Homo sapiens: one gene and its partners. The protein of the gene in region 2 interacts with the protein of the main gene of each other region in a pairwise test. Each region holds a gene or a part of one and is shown on either strand. Other genes may lie near its edges. The genes, in order: GAB1, LYN and A2M.

Region 1 (3,658 bases), on a different chromosome or scaffold from region 2:
CTTCTCATAGTTCAGTTTTTAAAATTATATATATATAAATGTGCATGTAACATCAGATGTTATTGACAGTAGTTGTTACCATAGAATGCATGTATCTTTCTCACTGTGTGTATCCACTTAATTTGTTCATATGTCCAATCCCTGTCACGGACCTGATTGCTTACTTGACAGTGGAGGAGAAGACCTACCAGAATGACCCGAAGACAGAAATGGGAAGGATCAGCCCACCTCAGCATTATTAGAGGGCCAAAGGCTCTGTAGTGAAAGTAGTAATACCAACACTTTCAACGGGCCAAAAAAGAGGCACTAGGAGTGTTTGTGAACACCCAAGAATTATGATCAGTATCTACAGCATAGTGTGTAGGCATAAAGTAGTTAATATTTTAACAAAATATAAAAATACTGTTTTCTCTAAAGGGGGAAGCAGACAACTTCCCATAAGTAGAAAAAGAAAAACACTGGTGTTCAATTTCAGGTTTAAATGCATTTATGAAGGAAGACTATAATCCCCATTAATTAAATATAAAAGAGTCCAGCAGAAATTATGACCTTAATGTACAAGTAAAGTAGTATTTCTATATCAAATTAAATTTAGTCTATGATTAAATACAATGCTATATATACACACACATACAGACACACTCATAGTACCTTTATGGAATTCTCTAAAATGCTCACAGTAACTTATATAGTATTGATAATGATAAAGATGTATAAACTGAAGTGTAGATTTAAAAAATCTTTTACATCTTACTAAATGATATCTTCCATGGGTTAAACAGCTTTTTCAAGTTTGAATTTTAATTTTTGAAAGCAGAACTGTGCTTCAGTATTCAAACCTTCATAAAATCTTACAATTTTTCAGAATAAGGAATTAAGGTAAAGAACTCTAATGTGGAAGAAAGATTTCCAATCTCCAAGATCATAACTGTCACATCGTTAACCAGTGGTTTTTAGCCCATTCCTGGCCAAAGTCTAGCTTCTTGGAGGTGAGTTAAAAGGGTTTGATTCAAATTTAGTTTTTATACGTGCATATTTTAAAACCTAATAAAAACGCACATTCTGATGTGTTACATACCCTACTTTACCACACTGGAGACTGCTTATGTATTAACTTCCACTACCAGGATAACTTATTTTTGTATAGACCTTGAATAACTTTAGCTATCTCTAATTAAAGAATTTCCTGAGATGTATGTTTAAAACCTATTATTTTTGCTTACATTTGTGTGAATCAAAATTTTCTTGATAGTATACAAATAAAACAGGGCATAGCTATAAATTGGCTGCTGGTTTCATCAACTATGTATAACTCCACATTTGTGTTATTCAGAAATAACTCAGAATCTTATTATGCTTAGTAATGAGCCAAAATGAATAAGCATAAATGTGAACCCAAAATACATTTATATTGATAAAATTGAGTTTTCAGGCTTTATGTATTGGGGTTATACATAAAATTTCATCTAAAAAGATTCTAGTGCTAAAAATGTTTGGAAAATACTGCTCTGTAAGAAACTTTTAATTTAATTCTCTAATACAATGTTCAATGTGATTTAGTTTTCTAAAGCAAACTGCCTTTCTAATACATCACCATTTTTAAATTATTCAGAATGAAAAATTTTCTGAAAATCAGAGTGCTACAGATCTTCAAATATGGTGACTTGTAAAAAGTTAATGATAAGTTAGACTAAAAACATTCATTAAGTGCTTTAGACCCTTGATAGGCAGCTGTAAAGATTTTTATTTTTGAATTAATCATGTATTTATTATTGTGTTTTAAATCTTAAATATATTCATCCTCCAAGTAACAGAATTTAGCATCTTTACACATTAGCTGTATCGTGTGTTTTGATAGTTTAGGCACATTTCAGGATTTTAGATTTCATTTTGTTGTTTCATTATAAAACAGCTTGCACACCAAACTCAATCAATCTTTTTTATTTAAAAATCCACCTAAAAATTCACTTCTGGGTTTTAGTTTTTGTTTAAAAAGAAGCAAATATTTAAAAGCATCAAATGTTACTAGTCTACAATTCATCTTGTTATGAACATTTTTAGTTTGAGGATTGGGAAAATAAACCTATTACATTGATTAGGCACAGTACTATGGCCAATGGGCCAGAAATCAGGGCACATCTGTGTACTCAGGCAACAGTTAGAGGTCTGAATGGAGGGGGTCATGCCTCAACTGTGGGCACTCCTTTCTCTATGCCCCCTCCAAAAATTGTTATAAGTCTCAAATCAGTACATGAGATTGTATGTAACTTGGTTAAAAAACAACTATACGTGCTTTCTAAATTATGTTGCAAAGCCAAGACAGACGAATATAATTGTAGCCTCACTACAACTTGTGGTCTTAATATCTATGTCACAGGACCATGTTATAGGTGAGACAGAATTATACCATCCCTCTGGTGTTTTCAGAAATCTGGTTGGAAGGAGTCCATGACTATAACATTTCACATTGTAGCAAGGCTCCAATATTTCTTGAATTGGGGCAGTGAATATAAATCACAGTACAAAATCCGTAATTCTTTCAGTGGAAAAGCAACAGGTGCTACATACGAGAATCACTTATATAACATCTATTTTTTTTAAAAAAATGCAGATATAAAATATTAATTGCATAGGGAATTAAATATAAGGCCAAGAAGAATATTAAGTAAAAAAAATCATAGAAAGGGCACTATGGTGTCAAAAGACAGAATTTCATAGAGTAATAAATCTGAATTACTATCTAATTAAAAATCACAGTATGTTGCTGTAACTAACAGTGAATGTCAACTGCTTTATTAATTCCAAACTGAAAACCAATATTAGGACTAACAAGAACACAACCAAAGCTCATTGTCTAAACCTGATCAGTGTATTAGCACATCACTGCCTGGTACGTACCTGATTGGTTACATAATCTACCTTTTGCAAATAACACTTAATACATGTTAACAAGTGTAAGAGCACATCATCACTGCATGCCATCAATGATTTGCAGGCTTACTTGGTAGTGTAATTATTCAGTCTTTCAAAGGTGCAAGATCCCACCCGGCAGAATCTTCACTCAATGAACCAAAAACACTGTAATTAACAAAATATAACAAAGTTCCACCATTAAAAACTAAATGTACATTAACCAGAGAACTAGGTCCTGACACCAGTACATACATTATCCTCAGCATTTTGGAAGGCAACAAATGATGAGTCCAAGTATAAGCTAATGGTTATCACCTGAAGCTTCAGGTAGAAAGCTAACTTGTGAATCTACCTCTCATTTTAATGTTGTTAGACTGTAAACAGCAATTTCCAAATCTAAAAGTAGCTTAGTTGACTTAGTATTGTTATATAAAGTAGTGTGACAAAAAACAAGAACTCCCAAAGGAATTATGGTAAGGTACATTGGGAAAACCCAGAACAATGTTTTAGATGAAAAAGTGCATAAATACAGTAATACTACGAGTGTGTTAACTGTGGAACAAATGTTTCTCTGGGAGCTAAACAATACTATTTTCCCACATTATTTACATGTTATGAATTGTTCAGATACCACAAAGCACCACTTAAGTCTAAATTGCTTGATTATGTCAGAAAGGTCCTTTGACTTCAACTCTACTCATTTGAGGATCTACCTAGAGTGGAAGTGTCAAGTCATTCTTCAAAA
Region 2 (3,658 bases):
TTGCTTTTGATAACAATACCAATGACTACCATTTAGCCATGTGCTTCACTTGTGGCTAGTTTGGAATCCACTGTAACCTAGAACACTCACAACAAACTGCTGAGGTTTAAACATGAGGACTCTGAGGCTAGCAAGGCCAGCACCTTGCCAGCAGCAGCCCACAGTTAGGAAGGGACAGACCTGGGATTTCAGCCCCCACATGAAATTAATTCGACACCCTGTGCTCTACCGCCCTGCCCTGCCTTACTTTTGACCATTCAGAGTGATTTCTGGGCACTCATTTGGGTGCCAGGGATCTCCTGAGCAAGTCGCCCACCCACAACCCTAGCAAAGTCTTTGATCGGCATTCTGGTTTGTGAACAATCCAGAGAGAACAGAGCACAATAAACTCCTCTAGGATAGAAACCTCCCACTTATTTATGTTGGTATTCCCCCAAACCACCCACTATCATGACATACAGCACTCGATAAATATACTTGGGCTGGGTGTGGTGGCTCACGCCTGTAATCCCAGCACAGCACTTTGGGAGGCTGAGGCAGGTGGATCCCTTGAGCTTAGGAGTTTGACACCAGGCTGGCCAACATGGCCAAACCCCATCTCTACAAAAAATAAGCCAGGCATAGTGGCACACACCTGTAGTCCCAGCTACTTGGAGGCTGAAGTGGGAAGATGGCTTGAGCCCAGGAGGTCAAGGGTGCAGTGAGCTATGACTGCACCACTGTACTCCTGCCTGGGGTTACAGCCTGGTCTCAAACTCCTGAGCTCAAATTATCCTCCTGCCTTGGCCTCCCAAAAAACAAAAAAATTACGCAGGCCTGGTGGCGGGGCCTGTAATCCTAGCTACCCAGTACTGAGGTGAGAGGATGGCTTGGGCCTGGGAGGTGGAGGTTGCAGTGAGCCGAGATAGCACCACTGCACTTCAGCCTGGGCGACAGAGTGAGACCCCATCTCAAAACATACAAATAAATAAAGAAAGAAATACACGTGAGGGAAAATTTTTGTTACATACATTGGGCATCTATCAAATTTGAAATAATACAAAAAGCCAGTGTGGTTCTGAAAGACAAAAATCAACTGCTATGGTGCCGCATTTCATTATACCAACAACCATAAACTCCATATTAAAATTTTGCTTAAAACCAGGGATTCGGCCAGGCGTGGTGGCCAAATCCCTGGTGAGTGAGATCGTACCACTGCACTCCAGCCTGGATGACAGAGTGAGACTCTGTCTCAAAAACAAAACAAAACAAAAAACCAAGGATTGTGCCCATTACTGTATCTGTCACTCTCCAGGTCACTTAGGGGAGGTGTCAAGTACCTACTTGCAGATGACGATTACAAGCTGAAGCCTATTGCTGTCACAGAAAACAGAAATAAATGTTACTTTCTAGCTTCAAATTAATCTCTAGAGAAGTAGCCTTGAGTCATTCAACTCTCCACCTACTCAAAGCATTAAGTCAGTGTTCAACGTGTCTTCGCTCTTGGCTATGTCATAAATGCCATATTGTAAAAGAGTGTAGGCAAGAAGTTGCCTGTGATGGACAAAAAGATTAGCTTCATACTAAAAGGCTCCAGTGATTCCCCTTCGTTAATGCCATGAAGTCCAACATTTAGTATTAGGGCCAAGCACCCTCCAAGCCTGCCTGTGGAGCCTCCCACTGCCTCTCTGGAACAAGCTCTGGTAATGTGGAATGACCCCTGCATAGTCAGGCTGTCCTTCCTCAGGAAAGCCCCTTCTTCCAGGGTGTGTGGCCCACTCCCTTCAGGATTTCCACCAACATGGCAGGTGTGTACCCCAACTCCTAACACTGTGCGGGACTCCCAGTAGCTACCCAGGAAAAGTTTGCTAAACTGAATACTAAACATAGCAGTGGAAGGTTCTTTAAGAAAATGTTCTATTTACAACATTTACAGCGCATCAGCTCTCCTGAGACAGGACTCTTACAATTATATCCATCAAGCGTCCTTCAAGTCACTCTAGCTCCAAAGTTCCCTGTCTGCTTCCACCTGCCTTCTGCAGTCCCACTGGCTTCATTCCATTGCTCCTTATATCCTGCCGTTTTAAAATCATATAAGGAGCCAGGCGCAATGACTTATGCCTGTAATCCCCGGATTTCGGGAGGCTGAGGCAGCCGGATAACTTGAGGCCAGAAGTTCGAGACCAGCCTGGCCAACACAGCAAAGCCCTGTCTGTACTAAAAATACAAAAAGTAGCTGGGCATGGTGGTGTGTGCCTGTAATTCCAGCTACTCAGGAGGCTGAAGCACAGGAATCACTTGAACCCGGGAGGTGGAGGTTGCAGTGAGCCGAGATCACACCATCACAGTCCAGCCTGGGTGACAGAGCAAGACTCTGTCTCAGGAAAAAAAAAATATATATATATGTGTGTGTGTGTGTGTGTGTGTGTGTGTATATATATATATATATATTTATATTTTTATATGGGATTTATGTATATATTTATATGTGGGATTTATATATATATTTATGTATATATGGGATGCTCATTCTTTTAAATATAAAGACGTACAGAAGTAAAAACAGCACTCAACTGTCACCCAGAAATAATCACTATTAAGATCTTAGTATAAAAATTGTTTGAAATGCAGTTTATAGATGATGTGTCCATATATGAATATTTTATTTCAGAAATGGTATCATGTCATCTACTAGTTTGTGTTCAGCTCTTTTGCTATTGTTTGTTTGTTTGAGACAAATTGCACAGGCTGATTTCGAGCTCCTGAGCTCAAGCAATCCTCCTGCCTCATGCTCCCAGAGTGCTGGGATTACAGGCAAGGGCCACTGCGCCTGGCCGCCTGGCCGTGTTCAGCTTTTGAAAAAAAATTTTTCATATTAGTAACTGTAATTGAATGTTTTATCTTTTAAGATATTTACAAAGTATCCCATTATATGAATGTGACTTAATTTGTGTTTGTTTAATAAACCTCCCTATTGGACTGCCCATCTCTGTACGTTGGAAGGGGGGATGAAAATATGTTGATTAATGGATACAAATATACTGTTTGATAGAAGAAATAAGACCTGGTAGGGTGACTAGAGTTCACCATTAACTATTGTGCATTTCAAAACAGCTAGAAGAATTCAAAAGATTCAGCATTTAAAAAGAAAACAAATATTTAAGGTGATGGCTATCGCAAATACTGATTTAATCTTTACAAATTATATGATGTATTAAATTATCACATGTGCCCTGAAACTATGTATATCTATTATGCATCAGAACAAACAAACTCTGATGGAGCTGGCCAATCCTACCTCAGAAAAGCTGCTCCAGGCCACATTCCCCTGCAAGTTAAGGGGAGGGGCTGTTCCACCAGATTGTATTTTCCTTTTTCTATTTTGTTTTGCCTACAGATATGTGTATTTGAGCACAAGGTAAAATGTTTCTTGCTATGGGTTGTGGTCAAATAAGTTTGACAGGCTGGGCGCGTGGCTCATGCCTGTAATCCCAGCACTTTGGGAGGCCGAGGCAGGCAGATCACCTGAGGTCAGGTGTTCGAGACCAGGCTGGCCAACATGATGAAACCCTGTCTCTACTAAAAATACAAAAATTAGCCGGGCATGGTGGTGCATTGGTGCATGCCTGTAATCCCAGCTACTCGGGAGGCTGAGGCAGCAGAATCGCTTGAACCTGGG
Region 3 (3,658 bases), on a different chromosome or scaffold from region 2:
CCCAGCACTTTGGGAGGCTGAGGTGGGTGGATTGCGTGAGGCCAGGAGATCGAGACGAGCCTAGGCAACGTGGTGAAACCCTGTCTCTACAAAATATACAAAAAATTAGCTGGGTGGGGTGGCATGCACCTGTAGTCCTAGCAACTCAGGAGGCTGACTGGGAGGATCACTTGAGCCCCAGAGGCAGAGATTGCACTGAGCCAAGATTGTGCCACTGTACTCCAGCATGGGCGCCAGAGCAAAACCCTGTCTCAAAAAAATAATAATAATAGCAATCAGCCTAAGATAGCCCAGAAGAGGTAGACTTCAGCTAATTCATCAGCTCAGCTCTTAAACCAATGCTTTCTACCAATGTCTTCTCAGACCCCTAAGGTTACAATATTTTATTTATTCATAATACCCATTCAAAATCCACCCTAAAAGAGGCAGCTGCTTTCTGAAAGCACAGTTCTTCCATTTCTAGAGATTATTTACTCTCCTCAATGAAGTTTCATAGCTCCAGTGTCTCTAATTGCACAGGTAAAGCAGTCAAAGAAATTTCAAGCAAGCTAATCAGAGCAAAGGATGCCTCCTTTTATGCTCTTAAGAAATATAAATCTCAATCCCAGGAGGCTCTGCAGTGTAAAGTCACAAAGCATGCCTACATTTGAAGCAGAGAAACAAAATCAGGGGTCCTTCTCCCACTTTTCATTGTGGAACAAAAGATTTCTAGCTACTAGTTAAGGTAGGACAGTAAACTTACGTAGTTTTGTGAGAACATTAATCTTTATGACGTATAATCTAAAAATAATATAATTTTTCTAATTCATTAGGTCAATTACAAGGATCGTAGTCCCTGTTACGGCTACCAGTGGGTGTCAGAAGAACACGAAGAGGCACATCACACTGCTTATCTTGTGTTCTCCCCAAGCAAGAGCTTTGTCCACCTTGAGCCCATGTCTCATGAACTACCCTGTGGCCATACTCAGACAGTCCAGGCACATTATATTCTGAATGGAGGCACCCTGCTGGGGCTGAAGAAGCTCTCCTTCTATTATCTGGTGAGAAGGGAGGTTACTGCGTTGACTTCACTGTAGACAAAAGCTCTCTGTGGAGCAAGTAATCATGAAGCTCTTTAGATGTCATTACTTCAACTTCTTATCCATGTTCCTTTTGAAAGTTTGATTTCTCTTGAGGTGAATTATTGCCGGCAGGGACTCAATAAAACAAGTATATTGAAGTGAGACTGAAGCGTGTTCTCTCTGGCACATTTAATTTCTTTTTATTTCCTTTTTTGCAGATAATGGCAAAGGGAGGCATTGTCCGAACTGGGACTCATGGACTGCTTGTGAAGCAGGAAGACAGTGAGTATTTCCATCATCTCTGCATTGCTGCCCCATTCTGACCCATTCAGCCTTACACCACGGAAGTATCAGAATACTTTCCCTTTTTTTCCATAGGTTTTTGGGGGAACAGGTGGTGTTTGGTCACATGAATGAATAAATTCTTTGGTAGTGATTTCCGAGATTTTGGTGCACCCATCACCCGAGCAGTATACATTGTACCCAATTTGCAGTCTTTTATCCCTCACCCCCTTCCACCCTTCCCCCTGAATCCACAAAGTCCATTGTATCATTCTTATGCCTTTGCATCCTCATAACTTAGCTCCCACTTCCTAATAGCTTAGCTGCCACTTCCTAATAGCTTAGCTCCTACTTCTGAGTGAGAAGATATGATGTTTGGTTTTCCATTCCTGAGCTGGGAATATCAGGAATACTTTCAAGTAACGAGAGACCATTTCCATCTAATATTAATTAAAAGAAAGTTGAGGGAGGGAAAACAATAATGGTTTTTTTCTCACCCTTTATCAAATATGTGTTGTCTTTTTTTTCAGCCTATTTTCTTTGCGTTATTTAAAATATTGGTGTGGGCCAGCTATGATGGCTTACGCCTGTAATCCCAGTACTTTGGGAGAACGGGATGGGAGGATCTCTTGAGGTCAGGAGTTTGAGACCAGCCTGGTCAACATAGTGAGACCCCATCTCTATAAAAGTAAATAAATAAATAAATAAATAAATAAGAACAAAGGGGGAAAAATAAAATACATAAAATATTGTTGTGTATAATCTATGCTTATTCCAGATTTTTAAACCATAAATATTCTTGAACCTCTTCTCAAAATGAGAATTGTGTTAGAGAATGGGGTGGAGAAAATGTACGATTTCAAGGTATGTTGTATATACCAGGTCTTGTGCTGAGTCATTTATGTCATTTATATTATTATAAATATCTTTTTTCCCTTTCAAGATAGTTATGATTTATGAAGCATTAAATTGGGTACTTCTACCGACTGAAGCGGACTCTTGCCATGAGCAAATATGTCATAATATAAACCTTTGAAGGTTGCTCCTAGTCTAGTAGACTCTAAAAGATAACTTGCTAGAAAAGTATCAGTAATCTACTCTCTCATTAGTTCTTGTAGCAACACAGAAGCACCATAGCAGACTGAAGGAAACTTAATGCAACCTCTAAAGAATCTACATAGGCATCAAAAAATAACTTCTGAAGGAGCATGGTGTTCCTCTTATGGAGAAAGAACCAAATATTGGCTCATAGAAGGTTAAAGAGCATGTAGCATGAATACAATGTGTTGAACTCTTACTCTTACATCTCATAACTTCAGGTTCTATTTCCCTCTTCTAGTATGAGGCCTAGATCAAATGGTAGTGAATTGGATGTCTTCATACCCTTAACTAGCATCAGAACATTAGGTGGGTGAGCTGAAGCTTAAAGCTGGTGAAAAATCAACAGAGTATATGATTTATGAGAGGAGAGAGGGCTTTGATAGGGTTTTTTTCTAAAGCTAGAGTCCTTAGAGGTAATCATCCATTTGTTACATCTACTGTTTATTATGTCTGTTACATCTACTAATGGAAATAGTCATTAACCTATGATGGCTTCCTCTCATTCTCTTTGTGCCCCAGTGAAGGGCCATTTTTCCATCTCAATCCCTGTGAAGTCAGACATTGCTCCTGTCGCTCGGTTGCTCATCTATGCTGTTTTACCTACCGGGGACGTGATTGGGGATTCTGCAAAATATGATGTTGAAAATTGTCTGGCCAACAAGGTGTGTGTTTTAGATCATAAAATCTTCAACATGTAAAACTAGAAGTTACTATTGTTATCATTTGTTTTACACATGTGAACATTAGGGCCAAAAGGGTTAAACAAATTCCCCAGAGACATTCAGCAAGGTAGTGGCAGAGTCACACTAAGAAGCAGAATCACTTGATTCCTTATACAAAACTCTCAAACTTCTCCTAGCAGTGCCTCTTACCAATTACACAGTTCAGAGTATGTTATTCCCTTCTTCTATGATGAAACGTTGGGAAATATGTAAGCAAGTTTTTAAGACTACTAAGGAGCCAAAAGAAAAATGCAAGAGCACCTAGACCCATGCATGTCCCACCACAATTAATGAGCACCTTGCCGTGTATCAAAGATAAAAATGGCATTTCATGACTAGTAATTTATAAGAATAATTAGAAATAATTCTACTGGCTCAAGTGATTCTTGAGAATGAAAGAGAAGTGTAGGGAACAAAAAGCTTCAGGATTGACACAATGCCAACCCTCCACGAAGTCAAGCAGAGTGGTTATACATTGTACATGAGGAACAC

The links.
Region 1: the proteins of LYN (region 2) and GAB1 interact in binary tests that used the Homo sapiens proteins (3 or more experiments, as listed by UniProt).
Region 3: the proteins of LYN (region 2) and A2M interact in binary tests that used the Homo sapiens proteins (3 or more experiments, as listed by UniProt).

What each region holds. Positions count from the first base shown.
Region 1 is NC_000004.12:143,469,246-143,472,903, reverse strand, and holds part of GAB1 (GRB2-associated-binding protein 1), read right to left. Parts: 3' UTR 1-3,658. UniProt on the Homo sapiens protein: Adapter protein that plays a role in intracellular signaling cascades triggered by activated receptor-type kinases. Plays a role in FGFR1 signaling. Probably involved in signaling by the epidermal growth factor receptor (EGFR) and the insulin receptor (INSR).
Region 2 is NC_000008.11:55,886,330-55,889,987, reverse strand, and holds part of LYN (tyrosine-protein kinase Lyn), read right to left. Parts: intron 1-3,658. UniProt on the Homo sapiens protein: Non-receptor tyrosine-protein kinase that transmits signals from cell surface receptors and plays an important role in the regulation of innate and adaptive immune responses, hematopoiesis, responses to growth factors and cytokines, integrin signaling, but also responses to DNA damage and genotoxic agents.
Region 3 is NC_000012.12:9,098,829-9,102,486, reverse strand, and holds part of A2M (alpha-2-macroglobulin isoform a precursor), read left to right. Parts: intron 1-812; coding exon 813-1,040; intron 1,041-1,279; coding exon 1,280-1,343; intron 1,344-2,963; coding exon 2,964-3,106; intron 3,107-3,658. UniProt on the Homo sapiens protein: Is able to inhibit all four classes of proteinases by a unique 'trapping' mechanism. This protein has a peptide stretch, called the 'bait region' which contains specific cleavage sites for different proteinases.